3 linked regions of the Homo sapiens genome follow. The protein of the gene in region 3 interacts with the protein of the main gene of each other region in a pairwise test. Each region holds a gene or a part of one and is shown on either strand. Other genes may lie near its edges. The genes, in order: URI1, ZMYND19 and GTF2F2.

What was found.
Region 1: the proteins of GTF2F2 (region 3) and URI1 interact in binary tests that used the Homo sapiens proteins (3 or more experiments, as listed by UniProt).
Region 2: the proteins of GTF2F2 (region 3) and ZMYND19 interact in binary tests that used the Homo sapiens proteins (3 or more experiments, as listed by UniProt).

Annotation. Positions count from the first base shown.
Region 1 is NC_000019.10:30,000,689-30,009,187, forward strand, and holds part of URI1 (unconventional prefoldin RPB5 interactor 1), read left to right. Parts: intron 1-4,672; coding exon 4,673-4,764; intron 4,765-4,962; coding exon 4,963-5,020; intron 5,021-6,781; coding exon 6,782-6,950; intron 6,951-8,316; coding exon 8,317-8,499. UniProt on the Homo sapiens protein: Involved in gene transcription regulation. Acts as a transcriptional repressor in concert with the corepressor UXT to regulate androgen receptor (AR) transcription.
Region 2 is NC_000009.12:137,581,581-137,589,011, reverse strand, and holds the end of ZMYND19 (zinc finger MYND domain-containing protein 19), read left to right. Parts: intron 1-293; coding exon 294-353; intron 354-1,188; coding exon 1,189-1,295; intron 1,296-1,904; coding exon 1,905-2,045; intron 2,046-5,848; coding exon 5,849-6,029; intron 6,030-6,325; coding exon 6,326-6,469; 3' UTR 6,470-6,931; downstream 6,932-7,431. UniProt on the Homo sapiens protein: May be involved as a regulatory molecule in GPR24/MCH-R1 signaling.
Region 3 is NC_000013.11:45,276,459-45,284,957, forward strand, and holds the end of GTF2F2 (general transcription factor IIF subunit 2), read left to right. Parts: intron 1-6,983; coding exon 6,984-7,103; 3' UTR 7,104-8,435; downstream 8,436-8,499. UniProt on the Homo sapiens protein: TFIIF is a general transcription initiation factor that binds to RNA polymerase II and helps to recruit it to the initiation complex in collaboration with TFIIB.

The sequences.
Region 1 (8,499 bases), on a different chromosome or scaffold from region 3:
ATTCCTTTTTGGTCCTTATTCCCCATGATCTGGAATACAACAGTGGTACACCTTGAAGCCGTGCTATGGATCCTTTAAAATTTGTTTGCTAGTGCTTAGTAGGCCTTTTTTGAGTGGAGGCTTAAGTCCTCCAGCCGTGGGAAATTTATATTAGTAATTTGAAAATTTCCTTTTCTTGTTGCCTATTTGTTTGTCCTTGTTGTAATTTTTGAAGTGATTTCTTCTGCATACTCTTTTAAATCATGTATTGACTTTAAAATTTTCCTGTACATAGTTTCATTTCTGGAAGCACTTTTTTTTTGTTCTTTGGCTGTTTCTTTGTTACAGCATCCTGTTCTTGTTTCATGGATGGAGGGTCTTTTTTTAAGGAGTATTTGTTTTTTCTTTTAAAGTTTTCATCTTTAAACATTTCCTCCATGTTTCTTTTTTCTTCTCCCTCTTTTCTCTCTTGCTCTCTTTTTTTGGTCTCTAGCATTAATGTTCAAGAATTTCTTCAAATGTCTGGTGATCCTTGGCTAACCATTTATACTTGCGTTGAGTACTGTCAGGAAGCTCTGTGTGCATAGGCAAGGTTTGTTGACTGATAGGTATTTTTTGTAGGGATTTAAGGTAGCAAGCTGATTTATTTATTTTTTTTAAATTGAGCAATCTTTAAGTATCAGCAGATTCTACAAAAGAGTCTTCTGATCTTCTTCATCTAGTGTTCTGAGAACCAGGCTGGGCGTTTCAAGGTTCAGTATGTTCACTTGGAATTAATCCTCCTGGTTTCACTAAGACATTTTCTATTCTCTTTCCACTTCCCTATTCCCTACCATCTCTACAAACCACTCTAAGCTGTGAATCTTTTGTTTAAGCAAGAAAGGAGAAACCTTTCTTGTGAGATTAGGGTTTGGGGACCTGTTCTTTTCAAACTTTTATCTAGATCTTTGGTTAAAGTTCACTCTTCTTTTGGAAATACTCTCAAGTGAATTGCCTTTTCCAGGTCCGATATCCCAGATCGACTTGTAGTAGCTTTTCCCAGCCACAGTTAGGTTCCATTTTTTTCTGTTGTGCAAAGTCCATTATCAGTTGTGCAGTTTCCAAAATTTGGTTGACATTTCTTGTCTATTTTCTCTTCAAATGTATTTGTCTTTATGGGTTTATGCCTTTAAAAATTTCTTAGTTGTTACTTTACCTAAGGTATAGGGGAAAGGCAAATACTAAGTACATGTATTCAATGTGCTATTTTAAAGCAGAAGTCCAAACCTTTGTACTGGTTTAAGAAGGAGTACATCCTGTCCAGAGGTTTGTGAGTATTTCCACCAGGGGGCACGTCCTGTTGAAGCTGTCGAAAGAATATTTAAAAATTCCAGCACACAAAAGAAACGAGGTTGAGAATAGAGTGGTCACAAAGGATTCAGTAGAGAATTGCATATTTACAGGCTTCATACTATTCAGTACATATGAATATATGGCTAAGTAAAAAAGACTCCTTTCACGAATGATGTTCATAACTTTTATTAGTGTTTTGCAAATAATTTTTATTACATCTGCATTTCTGTTCCTTTCAAATATATACAATTCTACAAACTGTTAACTAAATGTTTCTAAATATTTGGTCTTACTTAGTGAGTAGGCATATCGTTTATCTTTAGGTGAAAATGACTGCTTAAGTTCTTATGAGGTTTTAAATTTTCTTTTTTGGTTTAAACATGTCTTTGGAATTTGCACTGTTAATTTGCTTTAAGTCTCCTTTTTCATAGCTAACTCAAAGGATTTCAGCCAGTTCTGGACAAAGATTCTGAATTAGTGAAGACTTTAAAATATTAGCTTATGCTTGCTGCACATTTAACCTGCAGCCTGGTTTTGTCAGCTAAATAAATAAAAACTATACCTCATTCTATACTTCTGAAATCCTAGAAAATTTAACTTCTGATTTTTAGTTAAAATAACCTGTGTTTGAAAACAATCTTCTGTCCTTCAAATTACTAATTTTTTTCTTCAATTTTAGTTTTTATTTTTTGGGGTGGGGGGAAGTATCTGTGGAGAACTGTCTTTTGTACATTTTCACAGCTATTTCTTTGATCCCATTGAATTTGTTTTCTTTTTTCTATAATAATTGGTAACTAAAATGTTTGAGATTAAAATGAATACAGATATTGTCTATATCACAAAGTATATTTCTTTTTCTCTCAGTAGTGTTATTTGCTATAATTTCAGTGTGGTTTGAAATTTTGCTTAATTAGATTTCAACTTAGCCATGTTTGGAGCGTTAAAATTGATTGAGTCTGTTTAAATGATCCATTTTTAGTGACATGTATATTTCACCTCTTAAAATAAATTTTTGGAGAATAGAGTACAAAAGCTTTAGTGAAAAATGTAATAGCATGGTTTCTAATGTTAAATCTCAGAGTTATAGAAAGAAATGGAATTAAATTCTCATTCTGCTTTTTTAACTGTTGTTCTTTTGAAACAACCTGTAGATACGAATTTAGACTTGTTATTTACTTTGTACAAAATCGAAATAGGTGCTTACCATTCTGCTGTATTTTATGTTATTGTGAGCACCAGGTTCGTTTGCCTTGCGGTTGCCCAGCTTTCTTTTGTCTTGTCTTAAATTTTCTGTATAGCTATCTAATTTTTTGTTGCTCTAGGACATAGGACTTATGATAATTTAATAGAGATATATATCTGCATATATAATGTGTATGTGACGGTGTTGGTGCTTATCAGTTTGTGGTATTTCTGAGATTCTGATATAAAGTATATGCTTTTGAGATCTGATTTCTTAACCTTGTGATAGTGGTTTATATTAATGTATGATTCAGAAAGCTTTCTTGAATTTAAAAATGGAACTGTGCAATCGTATTTCAGTTTTTCATAATTACCCTATTTCCAAAACACTTTGTTTCTTAAATGGAATATTCACACAACTTTTTCTTACATGCGTGAGTTATGATGAATTTTTTTTAAAGTCAACAATAGTTGATTGAAAGTAACTCCTATAACATCAGTGAACAATCAATTCTTTACACATTGACAACCCAAGGCTTTCACTGATACCTTTAGCTTAGTTGCACAGTATTTATATGTGGATAGACTTTTAAAAATGTACTTAGCTTACCTACCTGCCATTTTTAATATTTTCCAGTCTTCTTGAAAAAAGTTATTGATTTGACCTCCTACCTAAAATAATGTTCTTTAGATCTAAAGCTGGTTAGACACATTATCTGACTGAGTTTACTGAAGCAAAAACATTCCATAACCTTAACCTTTTCCCTGACCCCCTGCTTTTAACAACTGCCGACATAGTTTTATGCTGTTATGTGACCATGCTCGGATGAAATCTGTCAAACAGCTCCTTGAGTTATTAGGCTGTCTGAGTCTGACCTTTCTGCAATCAAAGATATATGACTTAAGGGCTCAGATTTGCCATGGCAACCGGTCCAATTTGCTGCCGTGAGAAAAGGTCTAATTGTTGCAGAAATTTAATGATCTAGAGCGACATCAGGGCTGTGAGATTTTATGAACTGTTTACACCGTAATTTTCATTTTGTTAATGCAGTCTTTTTTTTGTAACCCATTCATGGCTAGAGCATAAGTGATTGTGTTTTATTTAAAATAGCATTGCATAGCATGAGAGCCGTATCGGAGAACATGTGCCACTCTCGAGAAGCCCTTCATATGTGGTGATATTTCACTTTTAACTCCCTTCCTTATTTTCATTCTTTTAAAAGATATTTTAACTGCTTAGACCTTTGCCAGACCTGCATTCATCATTGGTAGAGAAAGAACTATGTACTTTTCTCCTCCATCCTCTTCTGATCTGCTTACTGATTGAGTGCCTGTTGTAAAACAGTAGGAAATCACAGAGCATCTGGGGGAGGAGGTATCATATCACTGTCTATTATTCTTTATCAGCGCTTGGCCATAAAAATTCTGTATTTGGAGAAAAGTAGGATATTGTTCAGCATATAATTATAGTTAGAAACCCCATGTATTTTTTAGATGGTGCCATTTACTGCTTAGCAGAGATTTCTACTCTGATTACAGAAACATGAATTACTTGTTGCATTTGTCCAGTATTGGGTAGAGAAATGTTTGTGTCTATTCTCAAATTAAAATTTTTCCTCAAATAGGTTAATAGAGGGTGGTATTTAGGAGATGTTGAAAGGCTGTGTGTTGTGTTGTTATGCAGTTTAACTTGGAAATGGTTGATTATATACCGTAAAAAATGTGTTGTATTTTCAGTCATCTAATTTAGGAATATTTTCTGTTCAGGAACAGAATAACTTGTCTTAATCTATGTTATCTATGCATTATCCAGCTGGACAAAAATTACCTGTGCAACAAAACTGTTATGAAATACTGCATTTTATGTGATGATCCAACTAGATATTTATCCTATAGAAACCTGGTAGCACCAGGCAGCATCTACAATCTAGTTCTGTACTCTGTAATAGAGAGAAAATATGTTAGACATTTTATTACGAACAAAGTAATGTGCTATATATATAGCACAAAAATACACAGTATAACTTATTAAAAGTCCATTTAAAAGGAAAATAGTGTAAGATTTTTGAAAAGCATTACTGTTAAATCATACTTGTAGTGTGATAGGACTACAGTTAAAATATTCCTACAGGTCGTATATATGCCATGCTTTACATAATGGTTGTGTTCATTGTTTCAGATGTAAGAAAAACAATAGATGACTTAAAAAAAGTGATGAAAAATTTTGAATCCAGAGTTGAATTCACAGAAGATTTGCAGAAAATGAGCGATGTGAGTATTTGTTTTTAGTCTTCTATATTTTTAGAAAATATTTTCAAAGAAATATGAAGCTATCTTACAGCCAAGGAACAAATTAATTGAAGTTTAAAATGCTTTCAGACATCTTAGGTTGAATAGTTGCTCTTTGGATAATTTTAGTATGCTGGAGATTTGTGTTGTTAATACGCTTTTTTTTTGTTTAAAAACCAGGCTGCAGGTGATATTGTTGACATACGAGAAGAAATTAAATGTGACTTCGAATTTAAAGGTAAGCAGTAAGATTGTTTTATGTGTAGCTGTTTAGATATTTTGATTTTTGTTGATTTTCAGTGGGCTTTCTGTGAGATATTTGGGATTTAGAATACACTTTTAAATTCATAGGATGCCAACATTTTTCTACTCATTGATTTTTTTTTATGTGAAACATTAATGGATAAATAACTTTTGGTTAAAAATGTGATTCCTGACTGGTCTGTTTTAGTGGTGGGATTACATGGCTTTTTTCTCCCAAAGTTCTCCAGTGCTCCAAACCTCTAAAACTCAGAAGATGTATATTCTAGACATGGATCTGCTCCTAATTTGTTCTCTGACCATGGTGAAGTCCTAAGATATCTTTTGCTAGTTTTTCTTCTTTTAAAACTGCAGCTTTGTAAGCTGTTTTTGGAAGAATGAATGAATGTGGGTGTATTTCAGCCATTCCTCTTATGGTGCCTGCAGTGGCTTTCCCTGCGCAGGTTGTTCCCATCTCCACCCAGTAGATTTCTTTTGCCAAGGCTGGCTTATGTGTTTGGGTTTACTTCTGTAAAGCCAATGGTTCCTTCGTCAGTTGTAAAGTGTTAACGGTAGTGAAATTGTAAAAAGTATTACAGATGGCTTATTATTTGCTACTGTAGAAGACTGTACAGTGTCTTAAACAAATGTACTGAGCATTCGTTTTGACTTTCAGCACTCATATTTTGGTGATGAACTCTTAAGATAACTTACTGGTTGAAAGAAGCCACATCACAAGTAACAGGAAGTGGCTTTAGAAGGTGAAATAAAGGATATGTATATTAAAGTTGAACAGAAAGACAAGATTTTTGTTTGTGGTGACCAGTGACAAATTATGAGCGCTACAGGTCTGAAATAAAAATTGTTAACTACTGTCTTATCAATAATAGTTACAGAGAATAAGGCTGTGAAACATAATTTGATATTTTCAGATGTATGCAACAATGCAGCAAATTTGAATATATGATGGACTCGAGGTCATCTGGTAGTGCCATATCTCATAACAGGACGCATCTTAGACTTCTTCCCATTACTTTCCCATTACTTTGCTTTAATAAAGCAAATAAAGCCTTAATTTGCTTTATTAAAAAATAATCTATTTTTTAAAATGAAAAGCAGATACCTCTGAGTTCAGATTTGACCCATCTTTTTTCCTCACATGAAGATTACAAATGAAGCAGTTTAAAAAGTAGAGATGTTCATATGTAAAATGATAATAGAACTTTACAGAGATGAGCCGCCGTTGTTTCCTTGTAGGGTACTCATTCCTTGGCAGTGCCCTGGAGTTTAAAGTATCCTGTCACAAGGCTTTTGCACGTTACTGTAGTAACTAGATTTCCTTGAGTAAGGATGGTAAATGGAAATTTATCATTTATGTGTTGCATTTCGCCTTATAACCAGGGTGCATTGTGGCCATTTCTTATGCATTTTTGAAGCTCTTCTCACAACCTTGAATGTGTATGCAGGTTCTCTGGGGCTCTTGTTGAAATACAGATTCTGATTCAGTGGGTCTAGGGTGTCCTTAGAGCTTACACTTCTGAAGTGTTCCCCAAGGACGCCAGTGCTGTTGATCCATGGACCACACTTTGAGTAGCAAGGCTGTAAGAGACATTCATCCTTGGAGTTCTGTTTGGCTTAAAAATTGTGACCCCTCTGTTTCAATATTTCCCTTGCCCCAAAAGAAAGTCTCATTAAGTCTGGGTTTGTGCCTTTTTTATGTTGGCTATTAACAGCCACGTCTTTTCCTTTTTCTAAATAGCAAAACACCGAATTGCTCATAAACCGCATTCCAAACCAAAAACTTCAGATATTTTTGAAGCAGATATTGCAAATGATGTGAAATCCAAGGATTTGCTAGCTGATAAAGAACTGTGGGCTCGACTTGAAGAACTAGAGAGACAGGAAGAATTGCTGGGTGAACTTGATAGGTACTTGATGACAAATTATCTTTCCAAGATAATTTGTTTCTATACACATTTCCTCATTAATCTTTTTCTTCATTAATAAAATAATATGTGTTCATTGAAGAAAATGCAGGGAAGCATAATATATTATCAATAATCCTTTCACCTCAAGATGAACATTAATTCTCTGGAATATTTTCTTATAGGATTGTGTGTTTGTGCATATTCCCATGCATGTACATGTACTTAAATACTTAAGATCAACATCTTCATTTTTTATTATGGCCTATTTTATATAATTAATTATACCAGATAGTTGACTTTTAATAATCATGGATTTAATATATATAATGTTAAATTTTAAATGAAGTATTTTTATGCCACACCCAGGATAGTGCTCTATCTTTGAATGTGTTGTGAAAAACAAAAATACACTTTGAATTTAAATTTGATACAGTAAAATGTTTATTCTTGCTTTCCTTTTATAAACTTTGGAGCAGGTAATTTGTAATCTGGTCAGATAGCTATATGTATGAGAAACTTTACGAAATTGCTGTTTGAAATACACATTAGCACACACTTAGAATTGTTAAAATGCTAAATGAAATCTGCTACTCGAGAAGTTCTATATTATTTTGCTTAAATGATGTACCATATGCAATAATTAGTTTCTGTGAAAAATAGGGCAGGAAGCATAAAAGTTTCTTTTTCCTAGTGTTTCACCTATAAATTCTTAGGTCTTTTTGATTAACTAATACTATTCATTTTTTAAAACCAGTTTTGGATCTTGTGATTTTTCTTGGTCATGATTCTCTTTCTATTTTTTGTATGATGTTATTTCAGTTCTGTTGCATTTTCAATTTTGTTATTTTTGTAAGGTCCTCACATCTTTTATAGAATCAAGTATGATAAATGTTCACTCATGCATATAGATATATTCGTGTGCATATGTATAAATCCTTTATTTTTAAAAATTACAATAATACATGCTCATTGTAAAATATTCTGAGTATAGGAGTAGAAAATAAGTGTGTATTATGTGGTTTCAATTTCTGGTCTTTAGAGATAAATGTTCTCTGAATTTCTTACAACTTTATTATTATTGATACTATATTTATATTGCATATGGCCAATATCTTTCTTGCAAAGATAAAAAAATTATCTTCTATATTCTACTTATGTCTGAATAACCTCAATATATAGAAGCAGCATAGGAACTGTTTTTTGTTAATTTATTTCAAAACATTTTTTTGTTTTTGAACTTAGAATTCTAGTTTTAAAAATACTTTATTCAAGATCTTAGTATTTACCCATGGAAACTAACTGGAAATTTAAATAATGTAAAATTCTAGTATGTTTGTTTGATCTTGTTAATTTTCTTCCTTGCTAGTAAGCCTGATACTGTGATTGCAAATGGAGAAGATACGACATCTTCTGAAGAGGAAAAGGAAGATCGTAACACAAATGTGAATGCGATGCATCAAGTAACAGACTCTCATACTCCTTGTCATAAGGATGTTGCAAGTTCAGAACCATTCAGTGGTCAAGTGAATAGTCAGTTGAACTGTTCAGT
Region 2 (7,431 bases), on a different chromosome or scaffold from region 3:
GCCACTGTTGGGGTTAGCCCTGCGAGGATGAAGCCTGATACCAGCTCCTCTGGCGCAGACTAAAGTGGGCAGCTGGCTTTTAACCTGTCTGCCTGTGTTTTGTCGTAGACTGCACCACCCCAAACGGTGGAATGAGGCCCCCATGTGCTGAGCTGTCTTGGTCTGAAGAGGCCTGTAGTTACTTTCCACTTCACAGGAAAATGCAACAGGCTCCTGCCTGTTCTGGTTATAAGGTTACTGCACCTCACGCAGATCCCAAATGTAATGATTTGAAACATGTGGTTAACTTCCAGACCAAATACACGCTGATCGATGAGCAGGACATCCCGCTGGTGGAGAGCTACTCCTTTGAGGTAAGTAAGGATGGCTGTTCCCTCCCCTGATGCTCGTGGTCAGTGCCCAGGAGGGTCACGAGGAACGAGCTCTCTCCCCTGTGCTGCAAGAGCAGGCGGCCCCACAAGTGGACAACTGGTGCTGGCCTGTGAGCCCTGAGCCGTCAGCCCCACTTCGAGCCGTGGCCCTGCAGAACCTGGCTGTTGCTGCCACTGGAGCCCACTGTGGCCCACATGGCCTGGCGACAGTGGTCTTCCTCACTTTCACCCCAGCTGCCAGCTCCTCTTGAAAGCAAATGGAATGTTCTCATGTTTGTGATTGTGTCACGTGGACCATGTCTGTTAGCTCGAAGACCCTGCTCTTTAGAGCTAGCCACCTCTGCTGGGCCTGCCTTAGCAGTCCCTCCTGGCTGCCCAGCTGCCTCCCGTTCTCTGCTCTCATGGGGTCTTCCTGCCTCTTCCCAGCTTCCATTCCTGCCGCTGAGCTTGGCCTCCCTCACCATCCTTTATCTCTGTGCCCCACACATTCACAGTAGTGACCTCTCCAGGGGGTTCTCTATCTCACTGCACCGTGGGCTTTTTTTAAGGGTAGGAAAATGTATTTGTCTATGTCCCATTGTATTTTGCAGAGTTGTTTGTGAGTGTTTCTTGCTCGAATAGACAGAGTGGTGGTGGGCCACGCTGGCCCCTGGGAGCCATGTGCCTGTGGGAAGCTCTGCACTCCCCAGGGTCTCAGGGACAGGGCTGGCATTTGTCCCTCTGGCTTGCTTGTTTCACTTGGTTTTTCTAAGAGGGAATTGAAGTGTTGCTGAGAATTGGAGGTTTTTTAACAGCTCTTTCCCTTGTTCCTTCTCAGGCCCGAATGGAAGTGGATGCAGATGGAAATGGTGCTAAGATATTTGCCTATGCCTTTGACAAGAACCGAGGAAGGGGCTCTGGGAGACTCCTTCATGAGCTGCTGTGGTGGGTGTTTCCAAGCTGTCTCTGCCCCCCGCCACTGGGCTCCTGGGTGAGCTCCGATGGCACAGGGCGCCTGGAGCCCCCTGCCCCGCTGAAGCCCTGCCTTGCCTTCCCTGAATCTCGCAGTTATTTTTGTGTCCTTCACCACTAACCCAAAGGAACGAATGATTTGTATGTTGCACTTCAAACACCAAGTGGACTTTCTGCTGGGAGCTTGCCCAGGACCGGCAGCCTCTGGAGGGACGGTGGTTGCTCCCCTTGCTGGGTTTTGCCGAGCCCCCCCGGTGTGCATGGTAGGGACCACTCAGATGGGGAGCTGTCTCGAGGCCATCTGCTTAGGTGGTTTTGCGTTCCAGCTTTGGCTGTCTGTGCTCTGAAGTCCAGGGGCCGGGTCCTCCCTGTGTCCCTGTCCTGTTTGGGCCACAGATCAGGTGCTTGGGTTTCTCTCAGCAGCTTCCGCCTGAGGTACCCTCATCCAAAGGACCAGGGGCCCGATCAGATCACATGGCTGACATTTCTTCCTGGAAGGACTTTGGTACCTGACCAGAAATGTCTGTGAGGGTGGGAGGCAGCGATGCAGGGTTAGATGCAGGGTTTGCTGTCTGTTTCTAGGGAGCGGCACCGGGGGGGCGTGGCCCCGGGCTTCCAGGTGGTGCACCTCAACGCTGTGACCGTGGACAATCGCCTGGACAACCTGCAACTGGTGCCGTGGGGCTGGCGGCCCAAGGCTGAAGAGACCTCCAGCAAGCAGAGGTGGGTCTTCTCAGGGCCTGGCGATGCCAGCAGAGGCGCCTTTTGAGGAGGGCCACCGCCAAAGCTCTTGTTTCCAAGAGGGTCTCCTGTTCCTCCTCTGAGCCCTGATGCTTCTGTGTATTTTGGGAATTTCATTGTTTTTCCCCAAAGCGTGGAATCCTCCTTTTCTTCATGGGAGCGGGAAGGATCTTGATGGTGTGTGTTTTTGCATTGCTCCTCTTATAATTGGCTCTGGGAACCTCCCTTTAGCTGGCATGACAGTGGGGAGAAGGGCTGCCTGCTCCAGGGCAGGGCCAGCGTCGGGACTCGGTGTGAGCAGGGCTTCTGCCCCACACCCCTGGGAGGCATCAGCCTTCTCTCCTCACCTCAGGATTCCTTCCTTCTCTGCTCACCTCAGGATTCCTTCCTTCTCTCACCTCAGGATTCCTTCCTTCTCTCACCTCAGGATTCCTTCCTTCTCTCACCTCGGGATTCCTTCCTTCTCTCACCTCGGGATTCCTTCCTTCTCTCCTCACCTCGGGATTCCTTCCTTCTCTGCTCACGTCAGGATTCCTTCCTTCTCTCCTCACCTCAGGATTCCTTCCTTCTCTGCTCACCTCAGGATTCCTTCCTTCTCTGCTCACCTCAGGATTCCTTCCTTCTCTGCTCACCTCAGGATTCCTTCCTTCTCTGCTCACCTCAGGATTCCTTCCTTCTCTCCTCACCTCAGGATTCTTTTCTGTGCACACAGATGGGTCTTTTTGTTGTGTTCTTTTGCTAAACAGTTTTCCTTAAGCAAAGGTTTAAAGCGGAGAATGGTTCAGGGCTCAGCCCTCGGCCCCCGACCTGCCTGTGATCCTGAAAGCAGTGCTTTGCATGGGCTTCCCACCTGGGAGGGCGGTTCCTGCTGGCCCTAGAACCAGCCAGTCTGTGAACTTCATGGAGCCCTTGGGAAGAGCCAAGGGACCAGCAGGATAGGGGTTGGGAGCCCAGTTGAGCCAGGGAGTCCCCAGCCACACACGCTTCACTGACATGTTCCCCTGGCGCCCTGGGGCTTTTGGGCACGTCCTCAAGCCTCTGGGCAGCCTTTCCTGGTGCAGGCAGTGCGAACTGCCCTAGCAGATGGTTGTCAGCAACGCTGGTAAGGTTTAGTGTTTCGGGCTTGGTGATGGTTGGTGGCTGTGGGTAGAATCTTTGCAGTTGTCACCTCAGAGTCATGCCAGAGCCCTGGGCAGCCGAGGTGGAAACAGTGGGAGCACCTGACACACTGGTTGGTGATGTGGGGACAGTCCCCAGGCCTCCAAAATGCCACTCCCAAACTGCTGTTCCTGCCACCCTGGAGGGAGTCCTACAAATCCCCCCCCATCCCTTCCTCACTGGGCCTCTCAGGACGAAGGCAGAGCCTGAAGTGTCTTTCGTTCTTGTTGGGCTGGTGTTTTTTTTTCCCTGCTCTGTTTATTTCATTAAATTAATTAATTTTACGGATGGGTCTCACTATGTTGCCCAGGCTGTTCTTGAACTCCTGGCTTCAGGGAATCCTCTTGCCTCAGCATTTTTTTTTTTTTTTTTTTTTGAGACGGAGTCTGGCTCTGTTGCCTAGGCTGGAGTAGCGCGACCTTGGCTCGCTGTAGCTTCTGCCTGCCCAGTTCAAGCAATTCTGCCCCAGTCTTCCTAGTAGCTGGGGTTACAGGTGCCCACCACCACGCCTGGCTAATTTTTGTATTTTTAGTAGAGGTGGGATTTTGCCATGTTGGCCAGGCTGGTCTTGAACTCCTGACCTCAGGTGATCCGCCTGCCTCAGCCTCCCAAAGTGCTGGGATTACAGGCGTGAGCCACCACGCCTGGCCCCGCTTCAGCCTCTTGAGTAGCTGGGATTACGGGTGTGCACCACCACGCCCGGTCCTTGCTCTAATATTAGAGTTTTGACCTTCCTCATACTGCTTGTGAGTGAAGCCAGGCCTCTTACGATTGTTGAATGGGGTTTTTATTCTTTCGGGGATTATGTTAGTTGGAACTTTGGGTTGCAAGAAACAGAAACAAAGGTCAATTTGGCTGAAACAAAAATAGGGTACATTTTGGTATCCTGACTGAAATGTGGAGAGCCAGGGATGCTGCTGCCTCCAGCTCTGCGCCCCCACTCCCGGCTCCTCTCTGGGAGGCGGCATGGGCACTACCTAGCACTTGCGGACTGAAGCAGGCACCCTGTTCTAGTGGTGTCTGGGGAAGCCCTGGGATGAACTGTAGTTAGCTTGCTTAGAATCACTTTTCTACATGAAAAGGGAAGGGGAAGGGGAAGGCGTGCTTGGCAGGCAGAGCAGCATCTGTAGCATCTCCTCCTGCGTTGTCCCACATTGATACATGCTCAGTGTTGATGCTGGGATGGGCCCTTCCCAACTCCGCAAGTTCGCCCGCTGCTCACCACTCCACCTGGCAATGCCTTCTGTCCCTGCCATGGTGCGGGTCATTTCAGCCGGTTCTCAACAAGACTCAGGGTCCGGCCAGCCTGTGACTGAATGTTACCTTGAATCCTCTCAGCACCCTTTATAATCAGGAGAGGAGATAACTGCCGTTAAGAACAGCCGTTTGGAAAGGGGGTGTTGGGCTGATGCTCCTGGTCAGCCCATTCTCTGTGGGCACGGCAGGATGCCCATTCTCTGAGGGCACAGCAGGACGAGTTGCGCTGGGGCTGCTGCCTTACACAACCCCCTGCTACAGGAGGTGGGCCTGGGGTGGCTCAGGACTGATCAGGCTCAGCCATCTTTGGTTTGCCAACATGGGGTTTTAGAACCCAGCAGGTGTTGGGCCTCTTGTGCTGGGTCAGCACCCCAGGCCCCGAGCAGAAGTCAGAGCTGGCCAGTGTGGGCCTGACATCCTGTCTGGCTGGGTGCTGTGTGTCCGTCTGGATCCTGGTCTGTGGCCTCCTGTGATCCAGCTCTTTGTGGTGGGGTCACCCTGTCTTTGTTGACTGGCTGGGTGCTGTGCGTCCGTCTGGATCCCAGTCTGTGGCCTCCCTGTGGTCCGGCTCTTTGTGGTGGGGTCACCCTGTCTTTGTCAGGCCTGGGCTATTGCTTTGCTTTCCTGGCACTGTGTCAGCTCAGCCCCCACAAAAGGGGCCTCTTGGCAAAGGGGTGTTTTCCTGTTCTGTCTTCAGAAGCCAGCAGTGTCTGAAACTTGCCTCTGTCTGGTGGGACCTCACCAACATCTTCCCATGTCCTGATCCTTCCCCGTTTTAACCAAGTCTCCTCAGGGTCTGGCTTCGGAGAACGGGGTTGGTGGGGTGGTTTATGCAGCTTCTTTACTCCGTGATGCAGCAGGGCTGGGGCTGCCCACGCTTGCCTCTGAGCAGCCAGTGCACATGCCTTTGAGGCTCCGTTCTTGGTAGAACTCTCCCGTTGTAGGCATCTGGCCTACTCAAGCAGGAGGAGTTTTTAGACGGACGTAGGGCAGCTCCCGGTATGGAAGGGGAAGTGGACCGACGGGGCAGTAATGGGCACCTCTGCAGGTCAAGGGCAAGGAGAGGGGCCGCCTCGCTTTGCACAGGGGCCTGACCTGGGCCCTGTCTCCTGCCTACTGTGTGCCTGTCAGTCCCAGGTGCTGGGGAGAGGGTGATAGATGAGGCCATGCTTACGGGTTAGTGGGAAGATGAGACACAATATTTACTGTCAGGTGGTGAAAAGCACATGCAGCAGGGATGGGCCAAAGGAGACTCAAACTCGGGCTGGGTGTCCTGGGCAGGATGGCACTCTATGGAGTCATTGCATCGTCTGCTGTGTGCTGGCCCCGTTTGGCCAGAGTGCACTCAAGTGTCTGCTTCTTTCTTTAAGGGAGCAAAGCTTGTATTGGCTTGCAATTCAGCAGCTGCCTACAGACCCTATAGAAGAACAGTTTCCTGTCCTAAATGTGACCCGGTATTATAATGCCAACGGGGATGTAGTGGAAGAGGAGGAGAACTCTTGCACCTACTATGAGTGCCACTACCCTCCCTGCACAGTGATTGAGAAGCAGGTGGGTGTGCTGCAGTGCGGTCGCGTCCCTGGCACCTCTACCCTGTAGCCCAGCCTTGGTTTGGGATCTTGCCCTCCACCGCGGGGTCCCATTCCCCAGAGACCGCTTAGCACCTCTTGGGCTTTTCCACCAGAGTGGTCTCCCTTTGCCCTTGTGCTGGCCTGACCAGGGCCCAGGCCCTCCAGCCTTGGTACGTGGTGTTTTGCTGGGTCCGTCAGATTGTCCGTAAGACGCAGCCTTTGCCCCACACTGCGTCCCAGGCATGATGGTGAAGCCACAGGTGTTCTGTATTTCAGCTCCGGGAGTTCAACATCTGTGGGCGCTGCCAGGTGGCCCGGTACTGCGGCTCCCAGTGCCAGCAGAAGGACTGGCCTGCCCACAAGAAGCACTGTCGGGAGAGGAAGCGTCCCTTCCAGCATGAGCTTGAGCCAGAGCGATGACGGGCAGGGGAGCCACACATACTCACAGCCCCCGGGCTCTACCCTGGGCACAGCAGAGACAGACTGGTGGTTGAACCTGGAGGTGCCAAAAAAGCCAGCTGCGGGCCCAGGACAGCTGCCGTGAGACTCCCGATGTCACAGGCAGTCTGTGTGGTTACAGCGCCCCTCAGTGTTCATCTCCAGCAGAGACAACGGAGGAGGCTCCCACCAGGACGGTTCTCATTATTTATATGTTAATATGTTTGTAAACTCATGTACAGTTTTTTTTGGGGGGGAGGCAATGGGAAGGGTAGAAATTACAAATAGAATCATTTGCTGTAATCCTTAAATGGCAAACGGTCAGGCCACGTGACTAAAAACTGTCCTGTTGTCGAAGCTTCTCCCCTGGGCCGCCGGGAGCCCCGTGGAGCGCGGCCTGCACGGGAGTTGTGTCCACAAAGGCAAAGTAAAGGGGTGGAATCATCTGGCCTCTCGGACATTCTCTGCTCCGCCTCCCTCTTGTGCTGCTTAGGGTGAGGTCATTTTGAGTGGAGCCGAGTCCTTGTGGGTGAGGCAGGAGGACCCTTGTTCCTGGTGGGCCCTTCTGAGGAGCGGGTGAGCTCAGACCTTCCTGAGTCCAGCAGGGAGTATGAGTGAGACTCTGTCCTTGTCTTGCGGCAGGAGTGGTGGGGTTGCTAAGTCAGCTGCCCGCTGTTTTATGGGGAGTAGGATGCTCTCGCCCCTGACATTGGTTAGTTCTTGCCTGATTTATGCATGAAGTGGCTGGGAGCTCAGCAGTGAGCTTCTGCCCAGAAGAATCCACAGGGCATGTTCAGCAGGCCTGCTGCAGATGGTGGAGGGGGCTGGCCAGCCAGGGTGAGGTGAGGGTCTCACTTCTCCGTCCGTCTGCAGGGCTGTGGTTTCCAGGATAGCCCTCCCTCTCCTTGGGGAGCCCCAGGTGTCTGGGGCTGGTCAGCATCTTG
Region 3 (8,499 bases):
GGAGTCTCGCTCTTACCACCCATCCTGGGGTGCAATGGCATGATCTCGGCTCACTGCAACCTCTGCCTCCCGAGTTCAAGTGATTCTCCTGCCTCAGCTTCCCAAGTAGCTGGGACTACAGGTGCCTGACACCATGCCTGGCCAATCTTTTGTATTTTTTTTAGTAGAGAAGGGATTTCGCCATGTTGGCCAGGCTGGTCTCGAGCTCCTGACCTCAGGTGATCCACCTGCCTCGGCCTCCCAAAGTGCTGGGATTACAGGCATGAGCCACCGCGCCCGGCCTAATACAGTTTAGAAGCATGTCTTTAAACAAAGTTAAAAGGTTTAGCCTAAAGAAAGTAAATTTTGTTTACCTGAAATATTCAAGCATGTGAAGCATTTGTCAGTGCTGGATAGAGGAGATGTTACTAAAGTGAGATAATTTACCAGCACACAAATATTAACGCAATAATTGCTTTTTCAAGGTTTGGATTAAGCAGTAAAGTAGGGCTGGGGGAAGGTGGAGTAGGGTTTGCACCTTGACCATTTCATCACCCATCTGTGTGCTGCTTAGAGTTTTTACAGGGAGGAATGGAGACCCTGAGTGGAAGATAGGAGGCGGGATCTAGTGGGGAAGAGGAAGTGAAACCAGGAGAAAAGAAGAAAAATGCAGAAATGGTCTGTGTTTCAGAGAAGTTTCCTAGCATCGCCTTTCCTCTAAATGAGGGAAAATGTCTGTTGCATTTTCTGTATTAGGCCATTCTTGCATTGCTCTAACAAAATACCTGAGACTGGGTAATTTATAAAGAAGAGATTTAATTGGCTCATGGTTCTGCAGGCTGTACGGGAAGTATGATGCTGGCATCTGCTCAGCTTCTGGGTAGGCCACAGGAAACTCACAGTCATGGTGGAAGCATGTCACATGGCAAAAGCAGGAGTGAGAGAGTGAGGCAGGACATGCTACACACTTTTAAACGACTAGATGGCAAGAGAACTCACTCACTATCTCGAGGATAGTACCCAGAGGGATGGTGCTAATTCATGAGAGTTCCGTCCCCATGATCCAATCACCTCTCCCCAGGCCTCACCTCCAACACTGGGGATTACATTTCAATATGATATTTTCATGAGGACACACATCCAAACTATATCACGTTTGATCACAGTTTCTTCCTAATGTGTAGTTTATATTTTAACAGAAGAATGTTTTGCCTTGAAGTCACTAACATCTTCATCAGTAAGTTTTCATTCTGTTGATATCTCTTAAAGGAGTTGCAGTCATTCACACAAAAATCATGTAAAGATGAAATGATACTTTGAAATTATCACAGAATCGATAATGCCCTTCTTGTGGTTGGATCACTTTATAAAAAGCATATAGTGCATTTTCCTTTGTCAGCTGCATTAATCAGTGCCATCATCAGTGTAAGTTTGCATATTGAATATTCAGTCTCACCATTTTGGGAAGATTTTGTGACTGGAAGACTAACAGGGTCATATTGTTAACTTACTTAAAGCATTAGTAGTTGGTGATCATCTCCCTGTCAAAGGTGTATGTTTTTAATGAACATCTACAAATTTAGATATAATTGATTTATTATTATGCTTATCACTGAAATGCATGATAAGATGAAATGCAGATTAAGTCCTCCATTTGTTTGACAGAGCAGGAGAAGAAAAGATGATATGAGAAATGGTAGGGGGTGGAGGGACGGAAGGAAGGAGCAAAAGACTAAAATAATAGGCTACTGTGCCTTATGACTATAGGTTTGTCTCAGTCTTGGGGGCCAATTAGGATGTTGATCCATGGACTTCTGGCTTTTTGCCCACCGCAGTTTTAACTTGACCCACAAATGCAAACAAACATCCTAATCACTTGACCTCTTTGATCAAGTATGTGCCTTGCCATTTCCTTCCAAGAAAGCTGTGATGTTCTATCCCTTATTTCTCTGCATTCAGACTTGCCGTAAATTCTCTCCCACACATCCTTTTGATGAAGAATTGCTGGACCTGAGCCAGTTTATTCAGATCTTGTGCTGCAGCTTGGCACATAGTCTGTAATAAGACATATCCCCAATCCTATGTGACATAAAAGTGATCTACTCAGTTCTAGAATCCTCTGTTTCAAATACAGGTGGTTAGACAAAAGATTTAATTGGAAAGTCACTCAGTGTTTAAGTAAGAGGAGGAGAACTCCTTTCTCTAGATCTCTACACAGAATTGCTGTTCAAATCGAATGATCAAATATCTATCCTCAAAGAACCTAACATCTCTATGCGGGCTGTGTTAGGTGCCCCCTTCTCAGTGGTCTCATAATACCCTGTACACATGCCTCTGTTATATTTTCTGATTACCTGCCAATTTGCCTTTTTCTTTTTCTTTTTTTTTTTTTTTTTTTTTTTTTGAGGTGGAATCTTGCTCTGTTGCCCATGCTGGAGTACAGTGGTGCGATCTCAGCTCACTACAACCTCCACCTCCTGGGTTTAAGTGATTATCCTGCCTCAGCCTCCTGAATAGCTGGGACTACAGGGGCCTGCCACCACGCCCAGCTAATTTTTGTAATTTTGGTAGAGACGAGGTTTCTCCATGTTGGCCGGCTGGTCTTGAATTCCTGACCTCAGGTGATCCACCCGCCTCAGCCTCCCAAAGTGCTGGGATTACAGGCGTGAGCCATCACACCCGGCGTAATATGCCTTTTTCTTTGCCCCCATCCTCTGCACTAATCTTAAACTGTGAACTCTGAGAGGAAGACTGAGTGTCTACCATTCCACCTGGCACATTGTAGGTGCTGGAATAAATGTTTGAGTGAATATATGAATGTTAAAAAGAGAAATAAGATTACCAAGTAATTTTCAATCCTGGTAGAACCTTTAAAACCTCTTCTTCAGTTGGCTCTGTCACCAACAATATTTTAGCACTAAAATGCAGATTTTAGTAATAAGTGACATTCAAATTCACGTAGTACAGTTTAGTCAGTAAACTTTGTTTCTCAAACTAGATCACTGCTTGAGTTCTAAAACTGAACTAGAATTTGAATGGTCTATTTTTATGGACCTTCTTAGTGATATCCCCACCACCACCCAGCAGTCCTCTTAGCTGCCTTGTTAGTCTTAAGCACGCCTTATTCACTTTGCATAAGTACACTGAGTCTCTGTGATGTGCACGCAGGCACTATAACAGGAGCATGTGGCCGGGCGCGGTGGCTCATGCCTGTAATCCTAGCGCTTTGGGAGGCCGAGGCGGGTGGATCACGAGGTCAGCAGTTCAAGACCAGCCTGGCCAACATGGAGAAACTCCGTCTCTCCTAAAAATACAAAATTAGCCAGGCGTGGTGTCACATGCCTGTAATCCCAGCTACTCGGGAGGCTGAGGCAGGCGAATCACTTGAACCCAGTAGGCAAAAGTTGCAGTGAGCCAAGATCATGCCATTGCACTCCAGCCTGGGCAACGAGAGTGAAACTCTGTTCCCACCGTCCCCCCGCCCCCCCCAAAAAAGGAGCATGTGATTTAAGAGGAGAGCAAGGCATATAAATAAAGGATTATAATATAATAAGAGCTACCATCGAAGGTTGTGCGGTGTGAAATGTAAATCTAAGGTAAGGCTGTTAGAGAAAGTTTCTCTGAGAAAGTAACATTTGAGCCTAGTCTTAAAGAATGAGGGGTCCAGATTTGAGGAAAGGAGATAAACGTTACAAGGAAGGGAAACAACATATGGGAAAAACCCAGAAGCACGCAGATGCAGAAATGGGAAGCATGCGTGAGGGGGAGTGTTGGAAGATGAGGCTAAAGGGAGAAGGCAGACCTGAGTGGATGCCTACAAAGGCGTTTGGAATTTAATGTGTAGCCCAAACGGGGAAGTCATTAGAATATTTTAGACAGAGGAAGGACATGTGCTCTTTCTGTTCTCTGTCCATGTCTTCCCTTTAGAGATTTTCCCTTCAGAGACCTTGTTTTTCCCTATCGTCACTACTACTTTCTCTGCTAATGTTTTATACCTACTTCCCTGCCAAGCTAATTTATTTGATTAGAGTAAAATGGTCTTAGGTTGCAGTTTAGAACATCCTAAAAATCAGGAAGTTTGTGTCCCCTACCCCCTGATCACAGTACATTGTGACCCTGATTGCATTTTGTTGCTTGAGAAATTGACTGACTATGGTCATCTCATTCCATTCTTATTGTTACAAGGAAAAAAGAATGACACCTTCGTTTATAAAAAGAATTCCATATGTTCTACTAGATTGCCAAAATGAGGGTGGACATGAAAACAACTGAATTTGTACACTTCAGACTTTATTAATATTTTTTGTTTAACCCTTTTTAGGATTTTCATTTTCTGGGCCTAGATTATAAATGGGCACACTAGACTTGAAGTCAGGAGAGCTTCTTTTCTATGGAGCTACTAAAATGCTCCTGGCAATTGTTCTTTTCATTTTTGACCCATTGCAGTGCATCCACAATTGTATGGTTGTTTGTGCAACATCGTCTTAGCCAGTCTCATAATAAACCATTCTTTGGAATTTTACAAAGATGTCATTCTTGGCACCTAAACAGAGAATCATTTGTGCCTAACCAATCATTTTCCATTTATGAATCCTGTTCAATTAGAAAGTAGTTTATGAACAGTGTCCTGTTTTTTAAATGTAATTTGAAATAGCAGGTGGCAGACTTGCATTTTATATTACCTAGATATCTCAAGCCTTTATGCTTACTCATTCACACGGGTCTGCTAGTGAAGCCAACTGTATAAGGTGTGGGAGGTAGGCAAGCCTCGGGGGAACCCAGGGCTCATTTGGTTCATTGCTGCCATCTGCTGGGGCTTGGCTGCTGGCATGGGAAGGCTGCCCACGAGAGAGCTGAGCCATCCTGAAGGAACCTCTGTATACTTCCAGTACTAATCAGCTATTATGTTTCTAGGTGACAACCTACCCCTAACTAAAAGGACTTTATGAACTCTAGAGCATTATATCAGTCAGTGTAAAGTGGCATTAGATTATGTTGGTAACACGTACTCTACAGCAAACATGAGGCTCAGAGAACGAAGCAACACACTAAGGACTCAAAGATCCTAGAGTATCAGAACTGGAAGAACCTTAAGCCAGATGTGGTGGAACTTTAGTATATAGTTACATGAGTCGCCTAGGCACTTGTTAAAATGCAGATTCCTGGGCCTAGCCCAAGAGACTTTGATTCAGTAGGCCCAAGCTGTGTCTCATTTAACAAGCTCCCCACAGGGTTCTGATGCAGGTGGTCTAGCACCATGCTAGAGAAAAGCACTACCTTAAATATACAGACAAGAGCTTCTCAGCCATTTTTCTTATTAATGCCTCACTTCAATCAATAAGAAAAATTACATCTTCCATCAATGGGATGAGTCATCATCATACCGTAACTAGTTCTTTGAAGCACACGCACACAAATTATTGTTGGATTGCTTTGTTCTGCAACAACAACAAAAGAGTCGCTTTTAAATAATTATCTTGGCTGGGTGCAGTGGCTCAGGCCTGTAATCCCAGCACTTTGGGAGGCCGAAGTGGGTGGATCACCTGAGGACAGGAGTTCGAGACCAGCCTGGCCAACATGGTGAAACCCCATCTCTACTAAAAATACAAAAAATTTAGCTGGGCGTGGTGGCATGCGCCTGTAATCCCAGCTACTTGGGAGGAGGCAGGAGAATCGCTTGAACCTGGGAGGCGGAGGTTGCAGAGAGCCGAGATCATGCCACTGCACTCCAGCTTGGGCAACAAGAGCAAAACTCCATCTCAAAATAATAATGATAATAATAATTAATATTATTATCTTTCCTTTCTTCTCCAAGAAGGAAATTCTGTAATTTATATTGGTCAGCTTATTGTGGAATGCTTTTTGGCCTTCAGCATTGGCAAGCAAAGGTCTAGTTTCATATTACACTTAACATAGCCATCATTTCCATGACCATAGTAATCATTTAGTAAATGTTTATTGAATTTTTAGGGACCTAAAACACCATAATATGACTCTTTTCTTTGGAGAAGCCAAACACAAGGCTGCATCCCTGATAGTTTTAGGGGATGTCTTCTTATCACTTTATTTATTTATTTGTTTTTTGAGACAGAGTTTCACTGTTGTTGCCCAGGCTAGAGTGCAATGGCACAGTCTCAGCTCACTGCAACCTCTGCCTCCTGGGTTCAAGTGATTCTCCTGCCTCAGTCTCTCTAGTAGCTGGGATTACAGGTTCCCACCACCATGCCTGGCTAATTTTTGTATTTTTAGTAGAGACGGGGTTTCACCATGTTGGCCAGGCTGGTCTCGAACTCCTGACCTTAGGTGATCTGCCCACTTCAGCCTCCCAAAGTGTTGGGATTACAGGCGTGAGCCACCAAGCCCGGCCTTATTATCACTTCTTACTCCCTTATCTGTGTTGGCAAGCTTGGCTAAAGTACAAATAGTAGTAAATACAAATAACAACTCTCCTTCTCACATAGGAAAAAATAAGTGGGTGGCCTAAAAACAAATTTGAGAACTCACCTTAGAACTGAGAATTCTGAATACCTGTCATATGCCTGCTTGATAGAATATTCTCAAAAATGTTGCTCATTTTTTTTATATGCTACTGCTCCTGAAACTACTGGTTTCAATCTGTGAACTGAGTCCCATGAGGCCACTGAACTCAAGGGCAGATTACCCTTGGTGTACCGTGTCACACTGAGTGAGGACCAGTAATTTTTTCGTGTATTTCATGTAGTGTTTTTTGTGTTTTTTTTGTTTGTTTGTTTTAGCTTTTAAGTTGTTGGCATTCAGGACTTTCAACTCCTTTAATGCACATGATCATATATTTAGTGCAGTTACCATGTCGCACATGTAGAATCAAAAGGCAGTTTATTGAACCTCCTTATAGAGAAATCTTGCTGAGCTTTTAGGATCATAATTTTTATGGCTTGCATATGTGCTTTGGCATATCATCTTATTTTAAGTTTTGTCCCCTGCATTTATAATCTCATTTGTTAGGGGTTTTGTTTTTGTTTTAGGTGTACCTGAAGGAAATCTTAAAAGAAATTGGTGTTCAGAATGTAAAAGGGATCCACAAAAACACATGGGAGCTGAAGCCAGAGTACAGACACTATCAAGGAGAAGAAAAGAGTGACTAAGAAGACTCCTAGCCAGCATGCTAGTGAAACGACTAGCAGCGATGCTATGCAAAAGGCGCTGATACTGGAAGGCTTGAACACCGTATGTTAATAGGGGTTAAGTGACAGTACTTTGATTTCTCTCGGTAAATTTTTTAAACCTGTAATTCTTGTAAAGTTTCTTAACTGTTTTTTTGAGGAGAAAGAACAGATTTATTTATAGACTTAACTTGTATTAAACCAGATTATTCACAGTAGGAATAGGGGTTGGAGGATTAAGAGGGTTTTTCTTAAATATTAGCTTTTAATGTGTACAATTAGGAAATTTTTTTAAGTGAGGACTCTCTACCCTTGCCGTATCTAAGGAGCTGAGGTAATACAGATCCAAGGAGAATTGTATAGCAAGAAAAAAACAGTCAACTACAGAAACTCTTAAAAGGAATAAAAACCCAAAGTTCCTTATTTTGAAATTGTCAAAGAACAAAGCGGTGTTTTTCTTTTAAACAGGTGATCACGTTTCGTGTTCATACTCAACGTTAATAAAAGGAGAGAGTTTGTAGTGAAATGGCAGTGTTCATCATTGGCTTATTTTACCGTAGTGATGCTGAGATGAGAAATGTGCAGGATCATGGTCAGTTGATGTTTCTTTTATTTGCTTTTAAGATAATTAGAAATTAAATATCTTTCCAAAATTTGAAGATATGTCTCCCCCAGTCAGATTATAAGCTTCTCAAAACTGGCTTGCCCCCAGAATTTTACTGCTTACCCAGCAGACATGTATTGACCATCACATGGCAAATGATATCAGCAAATCAAAAGATGGGCGTAGGGGTCCAGCCGAGACAGAAAACGTTAGTTTCAATTCCTGGGGCATTAAAATGTTGCTTTTCTCTTTCTCTTTAATTAATTTTTAAATGAAAACAATACATGTATATGTTAGTTTTTTCTAGCACAACACAATATTATATATTAAGCGATCCAAAATCATACTGTCAAGACCATCAAACAAAACAAAGAAGCTTAAGTGAACTAAGCACAGGGAAAAGTTGTTTTTTCACTCGTTCATTTTGTCATCTGCTTCTAGATGCTGCAATCAAGAAGTAGCAAATGCCCAAGTTGCCATAGTGTTTGCAGGAAAAAAAGAGAAAAAATAATAAAAATAAGGAAGGAGCAATGCCAAAAATTGAAGAAAATATTATATAATTAAAGCAAGAAGATATCTATCCATTGAGAAAAACAATTTTTATATTATTTGCTTTTAGCAGCAAAGCATTAGAATTCTGAGATTGTTATAGCACTAAGAAGATTTTTATTCTGTGTACACACTGAAAAATAAAATTCTGAGTAAAGAAAGTGTTCCCATTCCCCACTCCACCTCAGATTTTCTTATGTACAGGCACCAAATGTGGTATGCCCA